6 linked regions of the Homo sapiens genome follow. The protein of the gene in region 5 purifies or fractionates together with the protein of the main gene of each other region. This does not show direct contact. Each region holds a gene or a part of one and is shown on either strand. Other genes may lie near its edges. The genes, in order: XPNPEP3, AMD1, STAM, LIPA, TCF25 and SLC25A25.

What was found.
Region 1: the proteins of TCF25 (region 5) and XPNPEP3 purify together in Homo sapiens (affinity purification with mass spectrometry; one large-scale study listed by BioGRID and IntAct). This does not show direct contact.
Region 2: the proteins of TCF25 (region 5) and AMD1 purify together in Homo sapiens (affinity purification with mass spectrometry; one large-scale study listed by BioGRID and IntAct). This does not show direct contact.
Region 3: the proteins of TCF25 (region 5) and STAM purify together in Homo sapiens (affinity purification with mass spectrometry; one large-scale study listed by BioGRID and IntAct). This does not show direct contact.
Region 4: the proteins of TCF25 (region 5) and LIPA purify together in Homo sapiens (affinity purification with mass spectrometry; one large-scale study listed by BioGRID and IntAct). This does not show direct contact.
Region 6: the proteins of TCF25 (region 5) and SLC25A25 purify together in Homo sapiens (co-immunoprecipitation; one large-scale study listed by IntAct). This does not show direct contact.

The regions. Positions count from the first base shown.
Region 1 is NC_000022.11:40,859,038-40,864,540, forward strand, and holds part of XPNPEP3 (xaa-Pro aminopeptidase 3), read left to right. Parts: intron 1-511; exon of another isoform or gene 512-1,640; coding exon of another isoform or gene 1,641-1,744; exon of another isoform or gene 1,745-2,027; coding exon of another isoform or gene 2,028-2,957; exon of another isoform or gene 2,958-3,735; intron 3,736-5,503. Other genes in the region: DNAJB7 (dnaJ homolog subfamily B member 7), read right to left, coding at 2,028-2,957. UniProt on the Homo sapiens protein: Catalyzes the removal of a penultimate prolyl residue from the N-termini of peptides, such as Leu-Pro-Ala. Also shows low activity towards peptides with Ala or Ser at the P1 position.
Region 2 is NC_000006.12:110,886,790-110,892,292, reverse strand, and holds part of AMD1 (S-adenosylmethionine decarboxylase proenzyme), read right to left. Parts: intron 4,789-5,503; coding exon 4,702-4,788; intron 3,958-4,701; exon of another isoform or gene 3,887-3,957; intron 3,437-3,886; coding exon 3,310-3,436; intron 2,040-3,309; coding exon 1,937-2,039; intron 133-1,936; coding exon 90-132; intron 1-89.
Region 3 is NC_000010.11:17,681,030-17,686,532, forward strand, and holds part of STAM (signal transducing adapter molecule 1), read left to right. Parts: intron 1-3,645; coding exon 3,646-3,721; intron 3,722-3,802; coding exon 3,803-3,898; intron 3,899-5,503. UniProt on the Homo sapiens protein: Involved in intracellular signal transduction mediated by cytokines and growth factors. Upon IL-2 and GM-CSL stimulation, it plays a role in signaling leading to DNA synthesis and MYC induction. May also play a role in T-cell development.
Region 4 is NC_000010.11:89,239,868-89,245,370, reverse strand, and holds part of LIPA (lysosomal acid lipase/cholesteryl ester hydrolase isoform 1 precursor), read left to right. Parts: intron 1-5,503. UniProt on the Homo sapiens protein: Catalyzes the deacylation of cholesteryl ester core lipids of endocytosed low density lipoproteins to generate free fatty acids and cholesterol.
Region 5 is NC_000016.10:89,903,005-89,908,507, reverse strand, and holds part of TCF25 (ribosome quality control complex subunit TCF25), read right to left. Parts: intron 4,391-5,503; coding exon 4,303-4,390; intron 3,571-4,302; coding exon 3,412-3,570; intron 2,315-3,411; coding exon 2,224-2,314; intron 1,266-2,223; coding exon 1,186-1,265; intron 1-1,185. UniProt on the Homo sapiens protein: Component of the ribosome quality control complex (RQC), a ribosome-associated complex that mediates ubiquitination and extraction of incompletely synthesized nascent chains for proteasomal degradation.
Region 6 is NC_000009.12:128,074,732-128,078,231, forward strand, and holds part of SLC25A25 (mitochondrial adenyl nucleotide antiporter SLC25A25), read left to right. Parts: intron 1-3,500. UniProt on the Homo sapiens protein: Electroneutral antiporter that most probably mediates the transport of adenyl nucleotides through the inner mitochondrial membrane.

The sequences.
Region 1 (5,503 bases), on a different chromosome or scaffold from region 5:
GAGCCACTGCACCCAGCCCTTAATAGTCTAGGTTTCTGAGAGATGTGTTCCGCAGTAATTTGCAAAATGTGTAAAAATGTATTTGACCATGGACCCCTTTTCTGTGATGAATCTTGAACTGGTATCCCTGGAACAGATTTTGGGAGAAGTTGGGCTAGAGCATAAGATGAGTACAAGGAGCTGATAGGAAATCAAGTTGGGAAAAAAGCTGGTGGCTGGCTCGTGGAGGGCCTTGTATATTATGTTAAGCAAACAATTAGCTTTTTCCTTTAGATGGTGGGAAAACTTTGAGGAATTTTAAGCTATTGAGTAAGATGATTAAATCTAAATTTTTGGTTTTCTGTTAAGAGTGAAGAAATGGACTACAGGGCATGTCATTACATTCTTAAATTTTCTGAGACACTGATTTTTGCTTTAGTTTTTGGAAAATTGCAATTTTTTTTTCAACTTTACTACCACATGCATGATAACAGATAAACTCTACTAAATATCACATCTTATATTAGAAGCATTTAAAATACCCTGGGCTTTTATTATTTTATTTTCTGAAAATAAACTTTGAATACTAATTGTCCGCAGTCTCTTCTATAGAATAAATAACCTTTCCTTCTCCCATCTGCCCACTAAAAATCAAATACCGATACAAAACACAAGCTCTTGACTATAGCTGTCTTTTAAAAATAGCAGATATTATAATTTTTTTCTAATTTCGCATTTGTATTTGGCCAAAGTTGAATAAGTTTTAGTGCTGCTAGATGTAACTCAAACCATTTGCTCGATATCTGATGTATTTGTAACCCATCTATTTTTCTCCCAACATGACTAAATTAAAATGGCTATAGGTGCTATTTTAGAGTAATGTATTTGTAGATTTTGTGTACAAACTCTAAACAAAAATAGAAAATTTCCTGTCTGGAGTGATTCACTGATGGCCTACCATACAGACTGCTCTGAGGAATTCAGGATAAGACTGGCCTTTAAAAAAAATGTGGTAAAATATACTACATAAAATTTACCATGTTACCCGTTTTTTAATTTTTTAAATTTTCTATAGTTTTTCTTTAGAGACAGGGTCACACTCTCAGCTGGAGTGCAATGGCAAGATCATAGCTCCCTACAACCTCAAACTCCTGGGCTCAAGCAATCCTCCCACCTCAGCCTCCTAAGTAGCTAGGCCTACAGGCACGTACCACCACACCCAGCTAAATTTTTAAAAAAGTTTTTTCATAGAGGACAGGTCTCATTATGTTACCCGGACTGTCGTGAAATTCTGACTTCAACCCTCCTGCCTGGGCCTCCCAAGATGCTAGGATTACAGGTGTGAGCCACTGCACCCAGCTAAGTCTATTTCTAACTTAAAATACTTTATACTTTAATTTTTAATTTGTAGTACCTTTAAGTTATAATGCATCAAATGCTGTTCCTCCATTGGAAAACAGCCATTTCATGAATAATTGTGTAGTCTGAACCTGTGTGTCTTGATACATTCTTGTCTTCTAATGCTATGCATGTTTCGTAAGTTTGTATAGTGGTTTTAATTAGAAAAAAGAAAAATAGGCTATAAACTCTACTAAAGAAAAATTCAAAAGTAAAAAACTCATTGCAGTTTTCCAAATTCCTTTTTTTTTTTTTTAAGACAGGGTCTTACTTTGTCACCCAAGCTGGAGTGCAGTGGCGTGATCCCATTACACTGCAACCTATGTCTTCCAGGCTCAAGCAGTCTTTCTACCAGCTTCCCGAGTAGCTGGGACTACAGGTGCACACCACCACACTTGGCTAATTTTTAAATTTTTTGTAGAGAAAAGATCTCACTATACTGCCCAGGCAAATTCTTATTAGCACCAACTGTCACCACAAACTCATCCTTTTCTGACATACCCATTCAAAAAAACTACTAACCAAATGTCCACAATCCTGCTAAAAGTGTTGAAAAGCTCTTAGTATAGTATTAAGTGTTATCTACAAAATTTGTGATTAACCAAAACACACACAATTGTGTTCAAATGTTATATATTTGAAGAGTCAATTTAACAATTCCTTTTGGTAGACTTCTTTTGCACCTCTTTACGCTTCTTTTTTTTCCTCTTACCACCCTCTTTGACTCCTGCTGAGAAAATAGGGGGATCTCTGTTGCTGGTAACCCAAGATATACCTCCCTCATCATTGTCCACGAAAGTATATTGAGATACATGTTTGGAGCTGTGAGAATTTGGTGAATAGTTGTTGAATGACTGTGTTCTCCAGCTGCATTCTTTTGCAAAGCCCTCTTCATTGGCCACACTATTTACAAGAAAAAATGTCAACTCTCCATTATCTTCAGCTTCTCTTTCTTGATCACTTTCAATAATTTTCTTTGTATTAATATTTCTGCCATTAACGATTTTGTCTGAAGTTGTAACAGATATGTAGTTGTCCATCCCACTATTATCAAAAGCCAGGGAAGAGAAAGAAGTAAGGCCTTCATGCCCCAATGAACCCTGTGATGTATATCCTGTATCATATGAAGAAAATTTCTCAAAAATTGGATATTCACTGGCAGTGGAGAAAAAGTATCCTGCATCTCTGTTTCTGTTTCCATAGGAGCTTCCTGGACGATTTAACAGGTCCTCAAGCGAGTCTTCAAAGAAGTGAAAAGAAAATGGATCCCTTTCATGAAAAATTTCTTTAAAAACATCATCTGGCTTATGGAATGTGAAGCCGTACTCACATTCATCATCAAAATGACTTCCACCTCCGTTTAATCCTTCTGTGCCATATTTATCATAAATGTCCCGTTTCTCATCATTTGATAATACCTCGTATGCCTCAGCTACTTCTTTGAATTTTCTCTCTGCTTCTTCTTTATTTTCTGGATTTTTATCAGGGTGCCATTTAAGTGCCACTTTATGATAAGCTTTTTTAATGTCCTCAGGTGAAGCATATCTTTGCAGTCCTAGAACTTCATAGTAATCCACCATGTTTTAACAGATAGTTGGAAGTGGGTGTGCTGGGTATTGAGAACCGTGGTTTCCTCAGCTCAGGCTCTGCTGGTGGTGGTGATAGAGGTAGTGACTGCAAATAGGTACACTTTTATGTTAAAGACAATGTTATTACCATGTGCTAAGAGATGAGGATACTGATTATGTGGCAAGCAGAGTTACAAATATGTCAGAGAGGGCTGCATTATGGTGTCATTCTGGGGTCAGTGTAGGGACTGGACCTTCCAAATAGAGCTAGTCCAGAGTCGTACCAGACCATCCTGAATCCTCTGGACTGTTTCCCCTGTATGTTTCCCTGGAAGCTTCAGGCAGTGCCTCATAAGCCAATGGAATCTGTTGCTAATAGCCACAGCATATCCCTTGCATAATATGACCTCTAGATTACTGCGCCTTAATTGCTTCCCAGCTCTTCTATGCTTTGGTTTAGAAAAATGAAGTACTGACTTACGGGTGAAGAAAGTATTCAAACAGTTGACATATTTATTTCAGTCAAGAAACAGTTCAGAGGGAGATACAAACAAGTAACTTAGTTACAATATAATAGTTATGATGAGAGGAAGTACTGGATGCTAAACAATTATATGAGAGACAGCTCAGGCTGGGGGTGTCAATGAAAGCCTCTTGGAGGAAGTAGCCTGATATGTTAACTTTCTGCATGCCAGTGGTAAGTCATTTGAGATTATAGTATCTTTGTCCACCCAAGGTTTACTGCTGTAAAACATGTAATTAAAGATTTGGAAAGTTGTGTGTTTATGTATTCACTGTATAATTATTGATTGTCTACTTTGTGCCAGGCACCGTTTTAGCCACTGGTGATAGCAGTATTGAACAAAAGACACCAGTTTTCCTGGTGCTTGCATTATAATAGAATACAAATAGGAGAACAAATAAAATAATTTAAGATAATGCGATATGTGCTCCAAAAAAAATAGCAATGTGCTGGGGGCAGAGCGCTACTTTAGATTGGTTTTAGAAGGCTTCTGAGGAGATGACATTATTGCTGAGACCTATATGACAGTCAGCCACATAGTGATCTAATATGGTAGCCACTGGCCATGTTGATGGACATTTTGGTTGTTGCCAGTTGGGGCTGTTGGACATAAAGCTAGCACTTATTTCAAGTACAGTGGGAAGCCTTTGTGGGGAGTGGGGAATATGCAAGTTTAATGATGTGATTTACATTTGTAATGGATCAGTGGCTACTATTTGGAAATTCAGTCATGTATGGGAAAGTAGAATTCGAGAGCCAAATTAGAAACAGACCAAAGGTGATTTTCTTTGGGGATAAACTACCAGTAGTCTAGACCCGAATTTAAAGGTCTTATATTCTATACCTGGCTCATTTTATTGTCTGAGAAAATTCCCTGTAATCTTTGTTTTTCCTCCTCTATGTTGTGTTTATTTTATTTTCCATCACATTTATAACCCCTCAGTTAAATGATACGCTAATGAAATCTAAAACTGTAGTGTATGCTTCTAGTCTTTCAAGACCATTTGTCAGGTCTGAATATTTTTTTGCTTTGCATTTTTATATATACTCATTTTTTAGAGGTATTGTGAAATGCTTAAAACTCAATTTAAATTCTCTCCAGTGTATGTGCTTACATGTACTTATGTGTGGCTTACCCATGATTATAATTTGCCTACCACTGGAAATAATAACCAATAATGTCGAAAATTATTTGAGTACCCTCTGAGTCACACTGTAGCAAGTGCTCATTTAACTGACACAGCACTCTAGCAAAATAAATATTTTATGCCCATAAGAAAACAGACGTTCTGAGAGAGAAAGTAATTTGTCTAAGGCTACATAGCTTGTTAGTGAAAAATCTGATTTTTAAACTTGAGTCTAATTTCAAGTTCTCATTCCACTCTACTGCATTTCTCGGACTAGGACTTAAAGAGTTTAGGTTCTAGGCATTCCACAAACAGATACTGAGAACCTGCTGTTACCGGAAAGGGGTCCCAATCCAGACCCCAAGAGATGGTTCTTGGATCTCGTGCAAGAAAGAATTTCAGTGGAATCCACAGAGTAAAGTAAAAGCAAGTTTATTAAGAAAGTAAAGGAATAAAGAATGGCTACTCCATAGGCAGAGCAGCCCCAAGGGCTGCTGGTTGCCCATTTTTATGGTTATTTCTTGATTATATCCTAAACAGGAAGTGGATTATTCATGCTTCCCCATTTCAGACCATATAGGGTAACTTCCTGACGTTGCCATGGCATCTGTAAACTCTTGGGGTGCTGGTGGGAGTGTAGCAGTGAGGACAATCAGAGGTTACTGTCATTGCCATCTTAGTTTTAGTGGGGTTTGGCCAGCTCCTTTTTTTAAGAACATCACAGGTAAAGCTCACAGGAAGGTGACAGTCTAGGAGAAGATGTTCGCAGTGTCTAAATTTGACAGGGACTTATTTTATTTTCATTATTATTGTTACTATTATTATTATTTGAGGTGGAGTTTCGCTCTTATTGCCCAGGCTGGAGTGCAATGGTGGGGTCTTGGCTCACTGCAACATCTACCTCCCGG
Region 2 (5,503 bases), on a different chromosome or scaffold from region 5:
AAAAATTAAAAATAGTTCCTAAAAATGACAATTGGCAGTTTAAATCTTACATAGGACAACAAAAATCCACAAAATTGCATTAAACATACCAACAGTCAGAATTCATACGTCCCATACAATATGCTGCTCCATCTGTTGAGGGAAGAGAACGCAAAATAAATATAACACATCCATTTAATAGGATGGTTTGTTACTACCCTTCCACAATAAGCAGAATGATACTATTTGCCACTTATTAGAAATGTCATCCATCAGTGGACTGGGCATAGTAGCTCATGTCTATAATCCCACCCCTTTTGGCAGGGAGGCAGAGGTGGGCTTGAGGTCAAGAGTTCGAGCCTGGCCAACATGATGAAACCCCATCGCTACTAAAAATACAAAAAGTAGCTGGGCGTGTTGGCACATGCCTATAATCCCAGCTACTTGGGAGGCTGAGGCAGGAGAACTGCTTGAACCCGGGAGGCGGAGGTTGCAGTGAGCCAAGATCACGCCACTCCACTCCAGCCTGGGTGACAAAGCGAGACGCCATCTCAAGAAAAAAGAAATGTCATCAGTGAAAGGAATGGAAACAGTAGGTAAATTCCCAGATAAGCAGGATCGACTGACTTGGCGGGTATTTGCAGTAAATACCCAACACTCTGATTAGCCTGGTTTGGTTTCATATTAGTAGATGTGCTAAGTTCAATTTTCATGCTTATGAGCGACTTTGTGCAAAGTTACTAAATTATCTTAGGTTTTCAGCCTTATCTAGGAAGTAAGGATGTTATCAGATAACCTTTGTTCCCTGACCTCTATAAATAAAAGCTTAGTAAATGGATGAAAGAAACCCTTACGAATTTCATTCAAGAAACACTAATTTACACTGTGCAATTTTAAAAAGCCAGGTCAATTATTATATAAAATGCTGGAGCAGAGCACTAGGCATTTTTCTGAAGGGAATCATATCCTTCTTCATATTGTCAAAGGACATTATGATCTGTATGTTAAGAACCACTGAGGCTGGAGGACTGCTAGAGGGCAGGAGTTCAAGACCAGCCTGGGCAACACAGCAAGATTCCATCTCTACTAAAAATAAAATAAAAATTAGCTGGGTGCTTGAACTCAAGAGTTTGACAATGCAGTGAGCTATAATGATGCCACTGCTCTCCAGCCTGGGAGACAAAGTGAAACTTGTCTCAAACAAAAACGCAAAAAGAACCACTGAGTGAGACATAAAGTAGAGTGAATGGCCAGATGAAGATGAACTCTCTCTATGCTGTATGAAAAATCAGAGGTGGCAGGTGATCAATTCTACATTTTAAAATTCCATCATTTAAACAGCACTGATTTATGATACACAATTATTTTTACATGTGTATACATAATTTGCAATAAGCTATTAATCTTAACTAAAAATATTTTATCTGATATTTTAATGTTCTTTATAAATTCTGCATATTTTGAATTACAAGCTATATAAAGATCACTACTGTACTCCCAAAACATCTAAGTCAAAGTAAATATGGACCAGGTGCAGTAACTCACACTTGTAATCCTAGCACTTTGGGAGGCCAAGGCAGGTGGATCCCTTGAGCCCAGGCGTTCAAGACCGGCCTGGGCAATATGGCAAAACCTTGTCTTTACTAAAAATTAAAAAAAAATTAGCCAGGTGGGGTGGCAAACATCTGTAGCCCCAGCTACTTGGGAGGCTAAGGTGGGAGGATCACTTAAGCCTGGGATGTTGAGGCTGCAGTGAGCTGTGATCACACCACTGCACCAGCATGGGTGACAGAATGAGACCCCTGTCTAAAACAAACCAAAAAACCCACAAGAAAAGCAAGTATTAGTGTGTGTAGAATGCTATATATGCATAAGTATGCTCTCATATAGAAAGATCTCTGAGGTTGCACTTTCTATCTTTAAGAAGACAACAGGTTTATATTTTATTTAAACTTACTTGGGAAAATTGCATTAAGAAACTCTATTTCTTCCTGGAAATTCCGGTGTGGGTACCCTTGGTGAGAAGGCTTCATGAAATTCTTACGAGAATAAAAGAAGCTCTTTATTAAAAAAGAAAAGAAAGAAAAAAAAAGATGACTTTAGATGTAGAATTCTATCACTTTTCGAAGCTAATCAACTATTGTCCACATATCAAAAACTCGGCAAAATCAAAACTCAAATATTTTAGCTTGGCATGGTAGCATATGCCTGTAGTCTCGCTATTAGGAGGCAGGAGGATCACTTGGCCCAGGAGTCCAGCCTGGGCAACATACTGAGGCCCCATCTCTCTCTCTCTCTCTTTTTTTTAAAAAGCCCAGTCTAGTGATGATGGGTCATAACAACTATTAACACCAAGTATATTCCTTTCTAGAACAGTAGTTTCTAAACTGAGCTTATTAATAGTCATATAAGCAAAAATTTGGGGGGAATAACATATTAGTTTTAAGCATCGGTTAAGCACACATTGCTTTAGATTTCTTACAAGGATCAATTCATAACAACAAAAACTGTATTGAGTACTAATGACAATCCATCCTTTCCTTATGAAGTTAAAGATTAAAATTCAGGCCGGGTGCAGTGGCTCACGCCTGCAATCCCAGCACTTTAGGAGACTGAGGTGGGTGGAACACCTGAGGTCAGGAGTTAAGAGACCAGCCTGGCCAACATGGTGAAACACCGTCTCTACTAAAAATACAAAAAAAATTAGCCAGGCATGGTGGTGGGCACCTGTGATCCCAGCTACTTGGGAGGCTGAGGCAGGAGAATCACTTGAACCTGGGAGGTGCAGATTGCAGTGAGCTGAGATCGTGCTATTGCATTCCAGCCTGGGAAACAAGAGCGAAACTCCATCTCAAAAAAATAAAAAATAAATAAAATGTAACAACTGCTAATCAGAAAATTATACCCTAGGTAAAAACACCTTAGTTCTTGAAAAGTATAAGAATTTAACTCAATACTGACTGTTGCTCTTCATCCTAACTCTTCATTATAAAGACTGGACAATTTCAGTAACGACATTTTTCTTGCTTTTCCTTCTTTTCTTACCATTTCTCTATTATTATAAGTAGCCATGTTAAGAAATTAACTACTGGAAGTGTCTGGCTTCTTCATTTCTTTCTCCCATTTGAATTTCATCCTAACTCATTCTCTGCTTCCTATTTTCTGCTGTTCTTGAGAATCAGATCTCTTCCTAAGGTATGAACACCTTACCACGTGTTTGCATGCATTGTAACAAAGGCAGTAAGTATATAAATTTATTTACTTCGCATATTACAGGATAAGAACGCTAACATTTATGCCTGAAAAATATTTAAATGTTTGCTTACTTACTTGAATTGAGTCAAACCCACTGTAATCCCTAGCAAGCTTCAACAGGGGAACCAGTGCTTTCAGCAAGAGGGTGGTACCACATGTCTTCAAAATGAAACGTCTCTTGGAGACAAACATGCTACTCTCACTGCAGTTGAAAAAAGTCACAATATTATAACAATACTAATGTACTACTGAGGGTGCAATCAACCAATTTAATTATCATTTACAATTTTGGCTAGTACTTTTAAATATTAGGATCTCAAGGAAGCAAGTAACACATTATTCTTTTCCTTTTCTAGTATACAAAACATCCCCAGGGCTTGGCACATGGTAAGCATTTTGATAAACATTCGTATATTCATAATATAAACTTAGTTTAAAAAAAAAAAAGAGAGAGGCCAGGCACAGTGGCTCACACCTGTAATCCCAGCACTTTAGGCGGCCGAGGTGGATCACCACGTCAGGAGTTCAAGACCAGCCTGGCCAAGATGATGAAACCCCGTCTCTACTAAAAATACAAAAATTAGCCGGGCACAGTGGCAGGCGCCTGTAATACCAGCTACTTGGGAGGCTGAGGCAAGAAAATCGCTTGAACCTGGGCGGCAGAGGTTGCAGTGAGAGGAGATTGCGCCAATGCACTCCAGCCTGGACAGACTGAGACTCCGCCTCAGAAAAAAAAAGGGGGGGAGGGGCTGTTTAGTCCAGTATCCCCCAGCAAGGCCCATCACAATATATACTATAAGCATTAAAAGTATTTATGGAATAAATTAACTCTGCAACTACAAAAAAGGTGATGAGCTTTTATATACCAATTAGACAACTGTATTTGTATAGAGAAGCTAACTTTCCCTTTGCCTGAACTTCTAATTAAGAGGTCCTTCTTTACCAATTGGGAGGAAAAGACGGCAAACACCTTGAACTGTCCGGTGAGGCTTCAAAACCTATGTCCTAGAAACATCCACGTTACACTAAATGTTTCCTTTTATACCATATTTTTAAGAATAATGTAAAAAAAAGGCTGGGCGCGGTGGCTCACGTGTATAATCCCAGCACTTTGGGAGGCCGAGGTGGATGGATCACCTGAGGTCAGGAGTTCAAGACCAGCCTGGCCAACATGGTGAAACCCCGTCTCTACTAAAAATACAAAAATTAGCCGGGCATGATGGAAGGTGCCTGTAATCCCAGCTCCTCAGGAGGCTTAGGCCGGAGAATTGCTTGAACCAAGGAGGCGGAGGTTGCAGTGAGCTGACATGGCGCCATTGCACTCCAGCCTGGGTGACTGAAACTCCGTCTCAAAAAAACAAAACAAAACAAAAAAACCCCCAGAACTACAACTGAGAGGAACTTAACTGTTTCACATTATGATTAGGACTGAAATTAGCTACCTAACACTTGTTTTACAGGACTTACCTGAGTACATAAGCTTCCTGCTTGTCAGTTTTTGTCACACTTATGATTGAACATTGCACATCCTTCAAAAGTATGTCCCACTCAGATCTATCATTTAACAAAAAAGTTACGATTAATCCACAATAGTACCCACCTACTCATAAAAATTACAAAGCTCACACTTTTTCTCATGAAGACCACATTTTTAATTAATATTGTACACCAACTTTTAGTTTCTTTCAAAATAATCTATATTGACACACCCAGATAAATGATAGGTATATTATGCTATATATGAAACAAAAATTGGTCATTATACTATGTATTTACAAATTACTTAAAGAAAAATAGGCAAAAAAATGTTCAAAGGTCCATAAACCAAGGTAAACCATTAACTAATCAATGATTACAGAAATTCAATGGGATACTTTGTCTATAAAATGTGCAGATTTTTAACCTTAAGAAACACTTAAAAAAAAAGAAGAGCATAATTTTACCAATCTAATTGGCATAGAAATTTAAAAGCCTGTCTGTCGGGACACAGTGAGTGATGTTACTCTTATAGCACTCACAAAAAACTGGAATGACTGCCAATTACAAGCATACCTAGAAGATTTTGGGAATACTACGCAGCTCTCCAAATGCAATGAGAAAGCCCGTTTAACAGGAAATGTGCAGTACAAGCAACCATAGCAATGAAGGTCATATGGACATGAAGAAACTAGTCTTAATTTGCCTGAGAATAGAATTAGGAAAGTGTTCATTCTTTCATTAGTGTGCCCATTATAAAAAGACAATGTAATTCCATGGAACAGCTTAACAT
Region 3 (5,503 bases), on a different chromosome or scaffold from region 5:
ATTCGAGGAACCAGTATACTGTTTTACACAGCACCTGTAGCGTTTTACATTCCCACCAACAGTGCACAAGTGTTTCAATTTCTCCACATCTTTGTCAACACTTACCATTTTTTCTGTTTTTCTTTATAGTAGCCATCCTGATGGGTGTGAGGTGGTATTGAGATCGTCTTTTTTTTTTTTTTTTTTAATGTAGGTGCTTATAGGTATAAATTACCTTCTCACCGTTTTACTACACCCTTAAGTTTTCTTGGGTTATGTTTTCCTTTTCATTAATCTCAAAGTATTTTCTAATTTCCCCTGTGATTTTTTTCATTGACCCATTGGCTATTTAGGAGGATGTTGATTTTCACGTATTTTAATTTTCTATATTTCTTTGTTCTTTCAGATTTTATTCTGTCTTTGGAGAACATGCTTTCTATGATTTTTTATCTTTTTAAATCTGTAGAGACTTGTTTTATGGCTTAACATTGTTTATCATGTGTAATATCCATATGCCCTTGAGAATAATATATTGTATTATTTCTAGTTCAAATAATTTATAGATGTTGATAATGTATTGTGTTATTAGAGGAAAATATATGTCATTTTAATCTGATGATTTAATATTTTGAGGCTATCCTTTTGACTTATATAAAGAGCTCCCTGTTTATGTTATCTGAATTTATTGGGAGGCATATCTGTGTCCAGAACATAGCATGTTTAAGTGACAGGTATGAATCTTGTTAGTGCCTATTACTGCCTGGTAACTGGCATCATGGGCAAGGAACTGAACTTCAGTAAATGGAGGACTTGGTTTGCTGTGAATGTTTTGAACACTGAATGAGTCCTTTGCTTATTATATAATTTTTGAGAGCCTAAGCACATGATGTTTCGTAGGTTATATGAATGATTACTCTGCTTTACTATTATCATTAATTACCATAAAGCATCCCCATGAAATGCATGTTTGCTACATTCTTGGCCTGTCATTTAAATAGATCTGTTTTTACTGACCTGTGATTTATCTACAACAAAGAGCATCCCTTGTATGTGTATGGTTTGATAGTTTGATGAGTTTTGACAAATATATATACCTATATAAGTATCACCCCAACCAAGATAGCATTTAATCACTCCCAAAAGTTCCTTCCACCTTATGCAAGTACTAATATGCATTGTCACTATAGATTAAATTTCCTTTTCTAGAATTTCATAAAATGAAATAGTATTGTCAGTACTCCTGTGTCTAGCACTAAATGTGTTTCTAAGATGAATTCAAATTTTTGTATGTATCAATATTCCTGTTTCTTGGGGAAGAGGTATTACATTGTGTTAATATATTACAATTTATCCATTCATCTGTTGATGGGCATTTGGATTGTATCCAGGTTTTGACTCTGAACAGAGCCTCTGTGAACATTCTTATAAAGAGTACTGGGTAGTATGCTTTCATTTTCATGTCCTTAAGGGAAATTATGGTTCTGTGATTTCATTTGTTGTAAGCCTTAGATATTTGTTATTTGATTTCCAAATATTTGGGTATTTTTATGCTATCATTTTGTTATCAATTTGTAGTTTAATTTTGTTATGGTCAAAGAATGTACTTTGTATGACTTTAGTCCTTTTAAATTTATCAGTGTTTGTTTTATAGGACAGAATGTAGTCCATTTTGTTGAATTTTCCATGCACATGAAAAAAAATGTGTATAATGCCATGGGTGGGTGGATTGTTGTGTAATGCCAGTCAGGTCAAGTTTCATGATAGTGTCATTCAGGTATTCCATATCAGTACTTTTTTTTCTTGTGTTATCAAGTCATTGAGGGGGCATGTTGAAGTTTCCAGTAGATTTGTCTGTGTTTCCTTTCGGCTGTATCGATGTTTCCTTTATATATTTTGAAGTTCTATTTTTGTGTTCATGCACATTTAGAATTATGTTTCCTTGGGGGACTTAACCGTTTTATTATTATGTACTGTCTCTCTTTATCCCTGTTAGTATTCCTTGTTATGAAAACTGCTAACGGTAGTGAATAGATAAAAGTGTAGTTGGATTACAATCTTAATCTGCCATTTTTCTAGATGATTGGTTATGTTTCTTCTGTTTTCTCTTTCTGTCTTTTGTGTATCAATCAAATGGTTTTTATGGTTTTATTTTTTTGATTTAAAACTTTGTTTTGAGACAGGGTCTCACTCTGTCTCTCAGGATGGAGTACGGTGGTGCCATCACAGCTCACTGCATCCTCGACCTCTGGGGCTCAAGTGAACCTCCCACCTCAGGCCATTCACTGCGCCCATAGGAGCTGGGACCATTTCTGGCTAATTTTTGTATTATTTTTTGTAGAGATAGGGTTTCACAGTGTTGCCCAGGCTGGTCCCAAACTTCCGGACTCAAGCCATCTGCCCACCTCGGCCTCCCAAAATGCTGGAATTATAGGTGTGAGCTGCTGCACCCAAGCTATTTTATTTTCATTTTTCTCTTAAAAATATTTGTAGTGGTGGCTCTGTGTTAAATTTTTTCATTTTTTTTCTCTCTGTACTTCAGTTTGGGTACTTTCAGCATATTTTCAAATTTACTGATCTTTCATTCTTACCTGATTAATTCCATCCACTTTTTAATTTTACATATTTTTTTGTCTCTAGACTTTTATCTGGGCCCTTTTTAATATATTTCTTCATCATTATGTGGATGATTTCCAGCATGCTTATAATAGCTTATATAAAGTCCTTGACTGCTAATTTCATCATCTTTGTTATTTCTGCATTCTCAGTTGACTGAATTTTCTGCTAGTTGTGTATGGTAGTTTTCTTCTTCATATCATGTCTTCATATCATTTTATTGAATGCTTAGTACTTTGAATTTTATATTTTTGAGCATCAGGTGTTGTATTCCTGTTAAGGAGTATTGGACTTTATTTTTTCAGAAGTGGTTACATTCGTCTGTGGCTTATGTTGTTAGGCAGTATGTAGGTATGATTGAGCTGCATTGCTAGGGTCTAAACTCCCCTGTATATCCACTGAATCCTCTGGATTTTCAATAGATGCTTCACTGTGGCCTCATCTCTGACGACTGTGTGAGCGTTGGATCTCTTTAGCATATCGCCCTCGGTCACTTTTTGACCAGTTTCATGGAGTTTTTCACCTGTGCATGCGTGGGTTTTTCAGAAGGTCTTCACTGATACTTGGAAAGTGCCTCTAGGCAGAAAGTTGAGGCAAACTTCTGGCTTATCTAATTCATTTTCCTTCTTGGATATTATCATTCAGTACTGCCTGTGGCCTCATGTCTTTAAAAAGTTAACCTCAGTGTGGAAAATCTGTTTTTCCAGTTTTCTAATTGTTTACAACGGGAGTGTAAGTCTGGTCTGTTTTTCCACCCTGGCTGGAAGTGGAAGTCATGGCCTACCATTTTATTTTCAAACCTTTTTTTTTTTCCTACCCAGAATTAGCCTGAAATGCCTCATCTACGATTACTAATAAGAGAGCCTGTTAATTTTGTTTGAAAAATTTAAAGGAACTAGTTTACAGTTTTTCAACCGTGTTATTAATAAAAATTAAATTTCCCTACTTTATCATAGTCTCCCTTTTTATCGTAGTCTTTTGTCTATAACAGTTAAGGGGCAGGGGGAAGCTAGATGTATTATTAAGTAATTTTTACTTTTCTCATTTTTTTAGACCTAAGGATTGTCTTCGGTCTATTATGAGAAGAGTGAACCACAAAGATCCTCACGTTGCTATGCAGGCTTTGACTGTGAGTGGTTTCATTTTAATCTGTACCACGAAATTACCTGCCACAATTGAGCCCCTTTAACTTCTGATTTTGTGCTTTTAGCTTCTAGGAGCATGTGTATCAAACTGTGGCAAAATTTTTCATTTAGAAGTATGTTCAAGAGATTTTGCTAGTGAAGTAAGCAACGTATTAAATAAGGTAAGGAGCATTATTTCCAGAAATTAATTAAGGCAGTCTTCTTTCTTCACATATTTTATTGTTTAAATCTTCACAGAGGACTATTCTGTGCTTTTTAAGAAATCCTTTCTAGGCTGTGTCTATCCAGTATATAAATAAATATTATGTTTTGTTGAAGAGACTGCGGATTCATGTAACTTTGAGTTAGTTTTTTCAAGCCATATTAGAGTGTTTTTAACCTGTTCTTTTCCATCATACTTTCATCTGATAAGAAAACAGGTATTTCTATATCTAATTAAATAATATCAGTCTATTTTACATACTGTTTTTGTAGGCACAAGGTATTTTCCTAATGGAAAACCTTTCAGAAACACTGCAAAAAGTCTATGGCACCGTTGAGTTTTTATCTTTATCAATAAGGCTGCTTCCTGGCCATCACAGGATTTTAATACTATACTGCTATTCTTACTGGCTGAACCCACAGCTGGAGTTGCCTCAAAAGTGGTGGCGGGGGAGTTTCCACAAGGGACTGCCCCAAACTGTTCCAGATAGGGCCAGATGAGAGTCCAAAAAAAGAGGCACTAAATGCCAGGGTGATCAGTCTAAAGGATTTATTAGGGGAACTTACACAGGAGGGCTGCAGTTTATAGGAGGGTTTAAGGAATTTGGCTCAGGGTTGGGGCTGGTTTCTGTGTGTTTAGCAACATACTTGATCTTTTAGTGTTTTGGGCCACAACCTGAACAACTTTATCAGTGCCTGAGAATGTTCAAGGCCCCAGTTTGGGTCCAAACCTATGGTGGAAAACATGCAGCTGGCTAGGTCACAGAGCGGGACAAGGCACTCTGTTTTTCTATTGGGACACAGAAAGAAAGCAGGGAGAACTGGGGACCCTACAACTGCCCACTCAACTGTAGAATTCTAGTCACACAGTTCAAGAAATTTTTCAATTTTCAATTAGTAATATGTGAGTTTCCCCAGTAAAAATTTGTGCATTCTAAAAGTAATTATTTTTGGCCTTTTTAGGGGGAGTACTGTAAATCAAGAAAAAGTTTTTGTATGTTAAAAGGGAAAATGCCTCATGTTTTTGGGAAAAATGAATAGTTCCAGGTTACAGTAGAAAAATAGCAGTATAGAAATATAGTAAGAATGTAAAATTCTGTACTTTTCGAACATCATGGTTAAATGATAATTCTTTCCCTTTCCTGCTTTATGCAGTTAATATTTATTTTCTACTAATTAATAAACATTGTCTTTTAATGTCCTGAATGTCCATCGAGATTACAACTGTTTATGAAGAGATTCTAATACCATGTTTTTTGTAATGTAGGTGAAAAATGTGGTATACTTACCTATGTATAATAGTGCAAGCAGCCATTTCCAAAAACGACTTCCTATAGGCAAGAGGACTTCTCTTTATTTTCTGAATGTTTTACAGTGAACATATTGGTTTTGTACTTAATAACATCCCGCCTTTTTTTTTTTTTTTTGAGACAGTGTCTCTCTTTGTCACCCAGGCTGGAGTACAGTGGCGTGATCTCAGCTGACTATAGCCTCTGCCTCCCGGGTTCAAGTGATTCTCCTGCCTCAGCCTCCTGAGTAGCTGGGAATACAGGCATGCGCCACCA
Region 4 (5,503 bases), on a different chromosome or scaffold from region 5:
AAAAATTATTTAATTTTTTTGAATTCACATAATCTAAAAATCAGAGAATTAGAAGACATACAGTGAAATGCCTCCCTTCTCTCTCACTCCCTACTTCCTGCTTTTTTGTGTATCTTTTTGAAATAACTTCATTTTAAAATCTTTTTATTTCCAAAAATCTCATTAGAAACAAATACACACACAGATTCTTATTTTTCCCTTGCCTCCATTTGAATGCAAAAGATGGCACTATTTTGTTCTTTGAATTTTTTACTTAATATCTTGGAGATCTTTCCATACAATACATAAAGCACATCTTCCAGAAGTGCATGATATTTCACTATATGACTGTATCATTATTTATTTACCAAGTGTCCTATTAATGCATATTTGTGCTATTTCAGTCTTCTGTTAACAAATATTGCTGCTGTAAATAAGCTTTTGTGTGTGCAAGTTTATTTACATGATACATGTCCAGAAGTAGAATTTTTGGATCACAGGATATATGCATTTGTGATTTTGATATATATTGCCAAGCTGATTTTCATGTGCATGTGTCCTGATAATTACTATCACTATGAATATATGAAAGTTCTTGTAGCTTTGGCTTAAAAAGTATATATATACATATATATGTATATCTTTTTTCTCTCTCTCATTTTATAACTCAAGCAAAACTGCAGTTTCCAGTGCAGATAAAGGAATTTCTAGACAGACTGATTGAAATTATTAAGCAGTTATCAGAAGAAGGATCTAATCTTTATTCAATTATCTCTCCAGATGTAGCTTATTTATTTATTTATTTTTTTGAGACGGATTTTCGGTCTTGTTGCCCAGGCTGGAATGCAATGGTGCAATCTTGGCTCACTGCAACCTCCGCCTCCCAGGTTCAAGTAAGATGTAGCTTATTCTCTAACATTTTTTTGTTTCTGGAGACTTTTCTTGGGGAAATTAAGGTTTAGATTAAGGTAGTTAGATAGCTATTTATTCTTCAATTTAAGTGTTATACGGGCAAAAGAGCCACCTTTGCCTCAATTCCTGCCCAAATTGTTATTCAAAGCAAACTTAAACACCCTTTGTGTTAATGTGAGCATTGTATTATTATTTGCTTTGTTTTTTCTTAATTTATCCTAGTTTAACTTTTTTCTTCCATGTGTTCTAGCTGTAATAAGATTTTAATAATGTTTAGGTGGCCACGACAACCATTTTTTTTGAAATTTGATTTCTAACTCTTGAGATTTTTATGCTTTACAGATATATGCCATTAAGCTTCCTTTTTATAAATATGTTATAAAATGAGTGATGAGTTATAGTGAGAGCTTTTAGTTTTTCCTGTGCTCAAAACACTCAAAACATATATTTTATGCTAGAGCGAGCATATGATCTTGGTTTCCTTCCTTTTTTTTCCCCCAAAGAATAACCCCTGTATACTGATTTCAGACACTGTATAAAGAAAAATGCTTTATATTATTTTTCTTAAAATTATAGTTGATTAATTAGTAACGTGAATCACTGTTAAATGATGGTAAGCATCTCAGTAAAACTTGCTGAGAGCTCTCCTCCTATATCCAGCTTCAGACTTCTCTCTCCATACAGTGGTTAAAACACTCAGAGTCACATGCCCTACCTGTGTGTATCACACTGTTGCAGGGGAAGGTGCAGTGCCCTGGAATATGAAGAAAGTGAGCATGAGTCTTGATATGCTCCCAGGTAATAGAAAGGAGACTTATGGGACCTTGGTGCTACACCTGGGTTTGCCCCTGACTTCTTGTGTGCTTTGTTTTTTCTTTTTTTTTTTTAACCTCTGTGGGATATATTATATATACTTTATTTTATTTTTGGCAAGAGGGTTGGGGATTGGGAGAGTGGAGAGTCTAGGTCTTTAGAATGGGGGAATATAGACTGAAAGTATTTACTCTAAGCTAAATCTGTTCATAGCATTTGGTCCTCATGTTCTTTCTCTATTCTGAGAGGCCCTCCCTGTAGGGGATCACTGATGTGTATGTCATACCTGCTATGAGCTAACCTCAGTGGGGAGTCTTCAAGGAAGTCTACAGTGAACAACTCAGTTCTCTAAAGGAATTGTGATTTTCCTAAGAACTGCATAGGCGCTTTCCTGATGGTTTGCATTTCCACATTCTAAAACAGAGCATGGACAGAGGCTCTTTACTGTCCTTCACTCCTATTCAAGAGCAAGGTTGTTGCCACTGGTGTTATTTCCGGTGTTTAAAGGCAAATAGATAAAAAGAATGGAGAAGGCCTTTCACACCCAAAGTGAAACGCGTCCTCTTCTCATGCATCCCGCTTCCCCTCCTGACTTCCTCCTCTATTATTAATAGCACCAGCATCCTCCTAATGACCTAGCCTGGAATCTGCAGAATCATTCTTGACCACGGGTCCTCTCTAGGCCACCCACGTTAAATTGCTTCAGTTCATCTTTTTCTTCTGTTTCCCTGACCACCAGCCTACATTAGGCTCTTGTTACCACTTAACTGGGCGCCTGAAATAAGCTCAGCAGCTGAGAGAGTCTTGAGCCATTTCCATTTTCAAGGCTCCTCGTATACTAACAGAAAGAAAGAATTTCAAGACAGGATTATGGAAATTCAGTTTGCTTATATAGTTTAAGAAATTAATGCTTTTAATACACACAAAAATACTGCTATACATTCATACTATTTACAAGTAATTACAAAATGTATTAAAACATTATTCATTTTTTGGTACCACATTCCTTGTGGAACCTGAGTCTACAGCTGAATGGTGAGCATCTTTCAGTCCTGTTGCCATGGGCCTCTTTGACTGACTGTGTAGCCTCACTTGGAGATCAGGTTTTTTTTATGAACACAGGGCTTGGCCACATGGCTTCTCTGCTCATGTTTGCTTAAAGGCTTTACCTAACTGCTCTTTTCTCTGCCAGGCTTCCTGTTCTCATTCATCCTATGTGGTTTTGCAGGATTAAGTTTCTTAAAGCTTAGCTATAATGATGTGAAATTGCCATTCAGCAATCTTTAGGGGTCTCAGAAATGAAGATACACACTGTTCCTTAAATATTCTGTCCAGCTGGTATTTGTACCTTTCACCTCCATTCTGCACAGTAGTAGCCCTTGGCTACTCGTGCAGTATGTGCATGCTGTTTCCCACCATTAAGCAACCTTCTTAGGAAGTGTTGAGCAATGCTTTGCTCCTGAAGGGAATTGAAATTCAGAAATTACACTTCATAGGGAAGTGGCTCTGTTTTCATCTGCTCAGCCTTATTTCAGAAAGTCATGGGGAGTTAGCACTGGAGGGATCTCAGATTCCTGCCTGGGCTAGGGATTTTTGTTTTTTTTTAAACACACTTCACTGGTGGATTCCAAGGTAGAATTCTTGGTTTTGGCAACCTGTGTTCTAGACTAACATCCTCATTTTGTTGGATAAGACAGCCAGGTTCAAATAGGGAAATGAATTTGTCTCAGGGCAGAGGGTCATGTCCTGACCTGTCTGACTACAGATTCAGTGATCTTTGAACTGGAGAATGTGGCCTTACATAATAAATATTAACCAAGTTGATGCCATGATAGGCACAATATATATTTTATATATATATACACACACCAAGAGTGGCACATTTGTATCTGAAAGTTATGCATCTGATTGCCGAGTGGGTGAAGTGGCACTCTAGACTGTGAAAGCCTGGAATGACTGCCTTCAGCATGCAGAAACAGGCTTTTCAACTGTGGCCTCAGCAAAGATTCCCCAGGGGTTGTCCATTGAGCTATTAGAGTCATAGCTGAAAATTCACAGCGTGGCTTGTGAGTTAAGTCTTTAGAAGGAGACCATCAGCTTGTATTTTGCTTTGATTGTTTATTTTAGAATTCTGGTTGATTTCTAGATTTTTCTTTCCTTATAGAAAAATCCTTCACTTCTAAAGAAACTATTTTTTGAATCACTGCAGTGCTCTAACGGGCTACACATAGGCGTTGGTAATCTGGGATGTAATTCCTCACCCCTGGTGGTGCCGAACAGACATGGTTTCATTAATCAATGCCTGAGCTTGGTGACTTGGGCTGAGCTCAGGCTCATGTAGCACTCTGATGGCGCATTGGGTAGGGGATTGCATTCAGAACCTTTGCCTAATGGAGCAGCATAAGTGAGGTCAGCTGTACAGCTTATCTCATAGACCCAGGTTGGGATCAGAGCAGAAAGCCAAGTGGAAAGGAAGATAGTGCTCTGCCCTGTCCCCTTCCCTCCTCTTCCTCCTGGTTAACCGCTCTGACCTGTCCTCTGTTCTCAACCTAATTTTCACATCTTCAGGGAGGATTTCCTCAGCCTCTCACACCAGGTCAGGCCCCTGGCTACATATTCTTATAGTCCTCTGTGTTTTTCTCCATCGCAATTAAGACAATAAACAATATATTATTATGTAGGTGATGATGTGTGTGACCTCTGTCATCCCCACCAGACTCTGCGGGGATGAAGACTTTTCTGATTCTCTTTACTTGGTAAATTGCTTTAGCTCCAGGCTGCAGTCTACCCAAGCATGCTCCTGCAGCCCTCCTGTGACATTGCGATTTAATAGTGTCCCCTGCTCAAGGGCACACTGCATGAAGGATTTCCTACTCCTGGGCTCCTAGGAGTCCACGAACACAACTTAAATGCTTCCTGTGGTGGGTAAAACTTGAAGCTGTATTGCCTCATGATTAAGCTGAGCATGTGAAGAGCCACCAGTCATGGGTGTAAGTTCTGGCTCTACTATTTAACTGGCTGTGTGACCTTGGCAATTTTCTTTACCTCTTGAAGTTTTGACTTATTCAATTATTAAACAGGAAGAATAATACTGGCTACTTCGTAGGCTGTTGTGAAAATTTGATAAGGCCTGTGAAATATATGCAGTATAGTAAGTGCAGGTGATACAATTTCTTTTACAACATTTATTTATTTAAAATATTAATGAATAAATACATAAATATTTTAAAAGTCTCACCGTGTCTCCCAGGCTAGAATGCAGTGGTACAATCATAGCTTACTACAGCTTCAAATGATCCTCCCTCAGCCTCCCAAAGGGCTGGGATAACAGGCATGAACCATGGTGCCCAGCCTCTGTTTTTAATTTTGAAATGTCAACATGGATTTGATGGTGGTCTCTGATATTGACTTCTTCAGGATTAAGCCCTCCATGACAGGGATGTATTCTAAACTGTGTGGACAGGAGGAAGATGCATTTGTTTACAATGGACAGAAGTAAGAAAAGTAAGAAATGTCATAGAACTATGTCTGGGGGTCAGGTGACAAGCACTGTGTCATTTCTAGCCCTGTGTCCCCTGCAGGTGCTTTCTTCTGTGGACCCTCTGCTCCTTCTGTTGAGGGAGAATTTTGGATGAGAGCTGGATAATTTCCCAAAATTCGCTCAACTGTGAAGCTCTGGAACTCAAGTTGCTGTGCTGCAAAGCTGTCTGAGGACAGGCCGTGGTGGCAGAGAGGGGCAGGGAAGACAGGCAATTTGGCATGGAGATGATGGGCACATTTGTCACATGACCTGGGTTTG
Region 5 (5,503 bases):
GTGGGAACTGCGAGGAAAGAGGTGGGAGCTGGCAGGTGGGAACTGGGAGGTGGGAACTGCGAGGAAGGAGGTGGGAACTGGAAGGTGGGAGGTGGGAGCTGGGAGGTGGAAACTGGAAGGAGGGAGGTGGGAGCTGGGAGCTGGAAGATGGGAGCTGGGAGGTGGGAACTGTGAGGAAAGAAGTGGGAACTAGAAGGTGGGAGGAGGAAGCTGGGAGGTGGGAACTGGGAGGAGGGAAGAGGGAGCTGGGAGGTGGGAGCTGGGAGGTGGGAACTGAGAGGAGGGAGGCGGGGTTGGAAGGTGGGAACTTGGAGGAGGGAGGCGGGAGCTGGAAGGTGGGAGCTGGGAGGAGGGAGGCAGGAGGTGGCAGGGGAGGTGAGAGGAGGGAGGCGGGAGCTGGGAGCTGGGAACTGGGAGGAGGGAGGAGACAGGGGCTGTAAGGTGGGAGGCGGGAGCTGGGAGGTAGGAGGTGGGAGCTGGGAACTGGGAGGAGGGAGGCGGTAGCTGGGAGGTGGGAGGCGGGAGCTGGGAGGTGGGAGCTAGGCGGCGGGAGGAGGGAGGTGGGAGCTGGGAACTGGGAGGAGGGAGGCAGGAGCTGGGAGGTGGGAGGCGGGAGCTGGGAGGTGGGAACTGGGAGCTGGGAGGTGGGAATTGGAAGGAGGGAGGAGGGAGGTGAGGTGGGAGGTGGGAGGAGGGAGTTGGGAGGTGGGAGCTGGGAGGTGGGAGGTGGGAACTGGGAGGAGGGAGGCGGGAGCTGGAAGGTGGGAGGCGGGAGCTGGAAGGTGGGAGGCGGGAGGTGGCAGGTGGGAGGTGAAAGGAGGGAGGTGGGAGGTGGGAGGAGGGAGCTGGGAGCTGGGAGGTGGGAACTAGGATGAGGGAGGCGGGAGCTGGGAGGTGGGAGCTGGGAGGTGGGAACTGGGAGGAGGGAGGCAGAAGCTGGGAGGTGGCAGCTGGGAGCTGGGAGATGGGAGGTAGGAACTGGGAGGAGGGAGGTGGGAGGTGGGAGGAGGGAGGTGGGAGCTGGGAGGTGGGAGGTGGGAGGAGGGAGGTGGGAGCCAGGAGCCGGGAGCTGCTAGGTGGGAGCTGGGAGCTGGAAGGTTGGAGCTGGGAGGTGGGAGCTGGGAGCTGGGAACTGGGAGGAGGGAGGTGGGAGCTGGGAGGTGGGAACTGGAAGGAGGGAGGTACCTCTCTGGCCTGACGTAGGAGTAGATTGTGTCCGAAGGAGGCAGAGGATCAAACCCCATCACAGACTGCGTGGTCACGTCCTTCAGAAAGGGACATAAAACGAAGATGCTACAGATGCTGCCAGGGGGCCTCTACCTCTCCCAGCAGAGTCCTTCTGTCGACTCCAGCATGGACTGGATGCATCTGCTGAGAGATAGCCACAGAGTCTGACAGAAACGGCTGTGCTTTTTGTACCAACGAGCTTTGGGTGAGGGTGGGACAGTCCTTCTGCCACCAGGACACTCACGGGAGTCGAGATGAACCTGCACGGCGTCTGCCCTGCACACCAGAGTGTGTGGTGGGGAAGGAAGGGGGTCACGTGCCGCTCAAGCCTGCCAACATCTTCACCACGTGTCAGAAGCTCCCACTTCAGCAAATGCAGGCTACAGGGACCCTGAGCTGCCCTCGGGTTGCACAGTGCCACGTGCTGCCACTCTACTGAGGAGAGTCAGAAGCTCACAGCCCCAGACAAAGCCAGCCATGCCGGTCATAAGGGCCCGCAGAGCAGCTGAAGTTAAACCAGGAGGCACTAAGCTGTCCCCAGTGGACGGTCCACGGTCCTGCGACCCTCTGACTTGCTGGTTTTCTCACTCGTTCTATCTTATCCCTTAACAACAGTACAAACTCCTTAGGTTTTGAGACAGAAACGGCACCTCCAGCACAGGAGGCGTCAGAGCAGGACTACACCCCACGACTACAGAGAATCCCCCAGCAGCCGCACCACGCGCTCACAAGACCACGGATGGAGCAGCTCACCACGGTGACGACTCAGCTTGTGCTCTGAGCCCCAAAGGATTTCTCTCTCAAAACAACAAGCATCCGAACCCGGGCTGCCAGGAAAGGAGGAGCCCTCTGCACTAGACCCTGCCCCTGCCGTGGCGGGGCTGGGCTGCTGAGGGAGCCCGCACCACGCACGCCTGCATGTGGACCGCCCGGAGCAGAAGGGACGTGCATGTGACCGGCTTACACAGAGCTCCCATTTCAGCCTTTCTCCCTTACCGGGGGCAGGGCAGCGACGGCTTCCTTGATCTCAGAGAGGATCACATGGCGGTGGATATTCCTGGGTGCACGCTGGTAGAGCACCTTCCGCCTAGGGCCGGGGAGAAACAAGGCACAGCAGATAAAGCACAGCAAATGAAATGGTAACCGCCATGGAGCCTCGGCCCCCACCCCCACCCAGCACGAGGCATCTCGCTGCATCTCTGGTGGCTGCAAAAACTGTACACTTTACTCTCGAGCAGAGGCACCATGGCTGGTCCCTGGCCTGCGGCTGGGGAGCCTCTGGGGACCAATCCCAGCCACATGGCCAGTGACTCAGCCTCTTCATCCAAAGAACAAGAACGATGAGAGCCGTAGCCAGTGGCTTCTTGTGGGAAGTCACTGAGTTCATCTCCATGAAGGGACACCTGGGTGTGTCACCATCGTCACTGCTACGGCTACAGGCACAGGCACTGGTCCCTGCTGGAAATCGCTCTTGGAGAGCAGTACAGGGAACAAAATGCTCCTGTCCATGAGAATGTCCAGTCCAGTGGGGACAGCAGACACGCGGACGGGCCCATGACTGCCAGCGGCTGGGGGCACCAGCGCCTCTTGGGCACCCCCGGGCACACCTCATGTCCGCGGCACACAGACTTCACTGTGGAGATGCAAATGGGCACCACTCCCAGGCGGTCCTGAGCCTGGCCACACCACTGCACAGAGCCACGGTGCTGATGCACAGAACTAGCACAGGGCCAAGGGCGCAGACAAACGAGACAAGAACAGCAAGGGGATGCCTGTCAGTTGCAGCATATTAGGGCATGAGCCTCCGAAGTGTTCACACACAGGACAGGAGACTCTTTCTCGTCTCTGCCAGATTTCTTTACTCCCAAGATGCTGCTGTGAGAGACTCGTCATCATCTCACAGCTCATGTGGAAACACTGCAAGACCCGAAGGCACCACTCCAGCCCGAGGCACCCGGGAACAGCAGCTCGGTACCCTGCGCTGATCACCACAGCTGCCTCCCAGGAAGCCTCTGGGACACGCCAGGGGCTGTGCGCTGTCTTGTAGGCTCCACACAGGCCCCACAGCAAGGGAGGCCAAGCTGCTCACAGCCCTTCTCGCCTCCCGAATGCGAGGCCCCCGTGTCTGGGATGAGGGTCCCTGAGGAGGGGGCGTGGCAGGGCTTGTGTCAACCCCTAGCTCACCGGTTCTCACAGGCTTCCACGGCTGGGTCCCCGGCGTCCACTGCTTGCAGAACCTCGTGGACGTTCTCCTCCAGCCAGCTCATGGTGGCGGGCTCTTTCCAGAGAAAGTGTGACCTCCCAAGGTACAGGTTCACCAGCTGGCTCAGGGCAGGGGGCTGGCTGGGGGAGAGCAAGGGCTCTGAGCAGAACCCCTCTTCAGACCACAGCCTGCCTCGAGGCTGGCAGAGCCCCATGGATGGGCAGACGGGGGGTCCAGGGAGTGCCCTGTGGCCTGGAGTGAAAGGAGGCCCCTGGGCTGCTGGCCTGAGGGCGTGGGGCTGGGGCACACAGGTATGTGCCGTGAGCCTGTTGGGCAGGTTATGTTCTTTAGGAAGCAGGACTGACGTCACAGAAATGTGAAAATGCACCCAGGGCGGGTCCATCTGCGTGCACACAGGGCGAGCCCTGGAGGGCCAGGGGATGACCCCAAGGCGTGCACTTTCTCCTGTGTTTGCTCCCTCTTTGTTTATTTTGTTTTTTGAGACGGGGTCTCACCATCACCCAGGCTGGAGTGCAGCAGCACAAACACAGCTCACTGTACCTTTGACCTCCCAGGCACAAGCCGGCCTCCCAAAAAGCTGAGATTACAGGCATGTGCCGCCACGCCTGGCACCCTCTTTATATGAGCCTCGTTTTTAAGCTGGAGGCTGCTCAGCTGTCCCACCTGGACTTTTCCACACAGATGAGGGCTCCAGAGCCGTCCCATGTCAAATGACAGTCCCCGAGGCCGCCACCACAGCCCCTCCTGCTGCTGGAAGCAGGTCCCTCAGGGCCTCTCAGGATGAGTGAAAATGGCTCCCAGGCTCCGAACCCACAGGCACCCACAGATGGGCACCACCAGCCACTCTTTACCTTATTTCAGCATTGGGTCCAAAGAAGCGGTGACTGGAAACGCTGGCGTCGGGCCGCACACTGCAAGACTCGAGCAGGGGCAGGAGGACTGCAGGGGAAGCGGAGGCTCTGTGGGGGCCCTCAGCACACACCCCAGCCACTCCTAGCCCCCAAGGCAGTAAGGGACACAGCGAGGTCCTTGTCACAGACACAGCTGTTCTAAGGTGGAGAGTCTGCAGGGCCAGCGGCTTGCTTCCGGGTGGTATTCTGAGTTGCTGCTGCTGGCGTGCCCAGGGTCTGAGGCTGGGGGTCTCCTTCACACCAGCCCCAAGGAGGCTGCCAGGGCCCCCATTTGCATCCAAGGGAAGACTCACCCACCACCCTCCACACACATGGGGTTGGGTTTTTTTTTGTTTTTCTGAGACAGGGTCTCACTCTGTTGCTCAGGCTGGAGTGCGTTGGCGAAATCTCGGCTCACTGCAACCTCCACCTCCCAGGCTCAAGCGATTCTCCTGCCTCAGCCTCCCGAGTAGCTGGGATCACAGGCGCACACTACCACGCCCCGGTTAATTTTTGTATGTTTAGTAGAGACAGGGTTTCACCATGCTGGCCAGGCTGGTCTTGAACTCTTGACCTCAGGTGATCCACCTGCCTCAGCCTCCGAAAGTGCTGGGATTACAGGCGTCCGCCACCACACCCGGCTAATTTTTATATTTTTGGTAGAGAAAGGGTTTCACCGTGTTGACCAGGCTGGTCTCGAACTCCTATGCTCAAGCGATCCTCCTGCCTCGGCCTCCCAAAGTGCTGGGATTACAGGCGTGAGCCACCGTGCCCGGCCGGTTGGATGTTTTAATCACAAAGACTGGACCCCATGGCAGGCTGGTGGGAGCGGAGGCCACCTGTGCCCAGTGGAAGAGCCAGCACTGCAGGTTGAGGGCAGAGGCCGCCATGTAGGGGAACGGGCCCCGAGGGCAGAGCCTGCAGTGATCTCCAGTGTTCTGGGGTAAGTGGCAGCGGCTTCTTGGCAGCCCACCTGCCTTCAAGGGAGGTGCTGACGCTACAGCCTGTGACACAGCAGCACAGCTCTGCCACAAAGGACAGGGCCTCCCAGCCGCGTTTCCAGACACGGCTGCACTGGTGGAGCATATGGCCAGCTGCATGCAGCCCCAGAGGAGGACAAAGGTGCTTCTTAGACACAGGGGACGAAACTTTTGGGGTCAGC
Region 6 (3,500 bases), on a different chromosome or scaffold from region 5:
ATATGAGGCTGGCCATGATGGCACTTTATGAGGCTGAGGTGGACAGATGGCTTGAACCTAGGAGTTCGAGACAAGCCTGGGCAACTTGGTGAAACCCTGTCTCTACAAAAAATACAAAAATTGGCTGGGCACAGTGGGTCACACCTGTAATCTCAGCACTTTGGGAGGCTGAGGTGGGCAGATCACTTGAAGTCAGGAGTTCGAGACCAGCCTGGCCAACATAGTGAAACCCCGTCTCTACTAAAAATACAAAACTTAGCCAGGCATGGTGGCGTATGCCTTTCTGTAGTCCCAGCTACTCAAGAGGCTGAGGGAAAATTGCTTGAACCCGGGCAGCGGAGGCTGCAGTGAGCCAAGATCACGCCACTGCACTCCAGCCTTGGAGACAGAGTGAGATTCCATCTCAACAACAACAACAACAACAAAATTAGCTGGGCATGGTGGCCCATGCCTGTAGTCTAGCTACTCGGGAGGCTGGGGCAGGAGGATCGCTTGAGTCTGGGAGGCTGAGGTTGCAGTGAGCAGAGACTGTGCCACTGCACTTCAGCCTGGGCAACAGAACAAGACCCTGTCTCAAAATAGATATAAATAGAGAATGAGAGAGCACGAGCCTGTCTGATCTGGAGCTTCAACTAGATGAATTTTTTTGATGTTCAAAGAGTTATTACTGGCCAGATGCAGTGGTTCACACCTGTAATCCTAGTACTTTGGGAGGCCAAGATGGGTGGATCGCTTGAGCTCAGGAGTTCAAGACCAGCCTGGGCAACATAGCGAGACCCCCATCTCTGTTTTTTATAAAATAAAAAAAAGAAAAGAAAAGAAAATGGGGGCCAAGTGTGGCGACTTACACCTATAATCTCAGCACTTTGGGAGGCTGAGGCAGGCAGATTGCCTGAGGTCAGGAGTTCGAGACTAGCCTGGCCAACATGGTGAAACCTCATCTCTACTAAAAATACAAAAACACTAGCCAGGCGTTGTGGTGTGCACCAGTAATCCCAGCTACTCGGGAGGCTGAGGCAGGAGAATCACTTGAATCCAGGAGGCGGAGGTTGCAGTGAGCCGAGATCGCGCCACTGCACTCCAGCCTGGGTGACAGTGCGAGACTCTGTCTCAAAAAGAAAAAAAACAAAAAAGAGTTATTACTTGTTGAAGTCTCACATCCCCACAAGGGAATGATAGAAACAAATATTTTGCTGGTATTCATTTCTTCATTTCTATTCCAGCTGAGTCTTGAATTCCTGGGCTCAAGCGATCCTCTTATCTCGGCTTCCCAAAGTGCTGGGATTACAGACCTAAGCCACTGTACCCAGCCAACTTTTTATTTTATTTTATTTTATTTTATTATGCCTGTGACACAGCCTCAGGGGTCTTGATGACATGTGCCTGGCAGCCAACTTTTTATTATTTATTTATTATTTGAAACAGAATCTTGTTCTGTCACCCAGGCTGGCGTTCAGTGGTTCAATCACAGCTCACCGCAGCTTTGACCTCCCAGACTCAATCTATCCTCCCACTCAGCCTCCCAGGTAGCTGGGATTACAGGTGTGCACCACCATGCCCAGCTAATTTTTGTATTTTTTGTAGAGACGGGGTTTTCCTATGTTGCTCAGGCTGGTCTCGAACTCCTGAACGCATGTGATCCTCTCGCCTTGGCCTCCCAAAGTGTTAGGATTACAGGCATGAGCCACCACGCCCAGCCTAACTTTTTTTTTATTTTTATTTTTATTTTTATTTTTATTTTTATTTTTTTTTGAGACAGAGTCTCTCTCTCTCGCCCAGGCTGGAGTGCAGTGGCGTGATCTCAGCTCACTACAAGCTCTGCCTCCTGGGTTCACGCCATTCTCCTGCCTCAGCCTCCCCAGTAGTTGGGACTACAGGCGCCCACCACCACGCCCAGCTAATTTTTGTTGTATTTTTTAGTAGAGACAGGTTTTCACCATGTTAGCCAGGATGGTCTCGATCTCCTGACCTCGTGATCCACCCGCCTCAGCCTCCCGAAGTGCTGGGATTACAGGCGTGAGCCACCACACCCGGCCCTAACTTTTTGTTTTTAACCATTAATTATACTAATGCGAATTTGGCAGAACCATAGAATTTAGTCTTGGATGGGTGACGGGCCATCATGGTCACTAGCCAGCCTTCCACCCAACATGGAGATAAGCTCTCCGGAAGCATCCTTCGCAGATGGTCATCCGCCCTTTCTATTGTGAACCTAATTGGAGTCACTGTGAGTTCTCTGTCATGTTAGACTGAAATCTTGTATCTGCTGCTGCCCATTGCCCCATGTGTACCTTCAGGAGCAAGACAGAAAAGTGATCCAAGGGCCCTTTATCTGAAATCTGTGGTCTTATCTTCCTATAATCTCTGCTGCTGCTAAAAACAGGTATCATCATGCACTTCTCAGGTGACGTGCTGTCCATACCTTACAGTTCCCTTAGCTGAGACAATAACCCATGGGGTTTATAGTACAGACTTTCCTCGGAAATGTTACGCTGATTGAAAGAAGCCAGTCGCGGCCGGGCGCGGTGGCTCACGCCTGTAATCCCAGCACTTTGGGAGGCCAAGTCGGGTGGATCACGAGGTCAGGGGATCGATACCACGGTGAAACCCCGTCTCTACTAAAAATACAAAAAAAATTAGCCGGGCGCGGTGGCGGGCGCCTGTGGTCCCAGCAACTCGGGAGGCTGAGGCAGGAGAATGGCGTGAACCCGGGAGGCGGAGCTTGCAGTGAGCCGAGATCGCGCCACTGCACTCCAGCCTGGGCGACAGAGCAAGACTCCGTCTTAAAAAAAAAAAAAGCCAGTCGCAAAGATCATGCACTGTATGATCCATTTAGGTGAAAGTCCAGAATGGAGAAGTCTACAGAGACAGAAAATTGAGTAGTACTTGCCTACCTGGGAGTGGGGTACTGGCGGGTAGAGAGATAGGAAGGTGAGATGAGGTTTCTTTTTGAGGTGTTGGAAATATTCTCAAGTTGACTGGAGTGATGGTTGCACATATCCGTGAAGATACTGAGAACCACTGAACTGTATACTTTAAATGGGTGGCTCATGCCTGTAATCCCAGCACTTTGGGAGGCTGGTCAGGAGTTCGAGACCAGCCTGGCCAACATGTAGAAACCCCAGCTCTACTAAAAATACAAAAATTAGCCGAGCATGGTGGCACACATCTGTAATCCCAGCTACTCGGGAGGCTGAGGCAGGAAAATTGCTTGAACCTGGGAGTTGGAGGTTGCAGTGAACCGAGACTGCGCCACTGCACTCCAGTCTGGTCAACAGAGTGAGACTCTGTCTCAAAAAAAAAAAAAAGGGTGATTTGTATGGTATGAGACCTGGGTTCAAATGTTCCTTCTGCTGCTTGCTAGCTGAGTGACCTTGAACAAATGACTCACCCTCTCCAAGTCTGTTTCCTTATCAGAAACTTGTTGGTATGAGGACCTACTGCATAAGGGGGGTGTGTGGGTTAAATTAGATAAAGCATAGAAAGAGCCCAGGACTGGG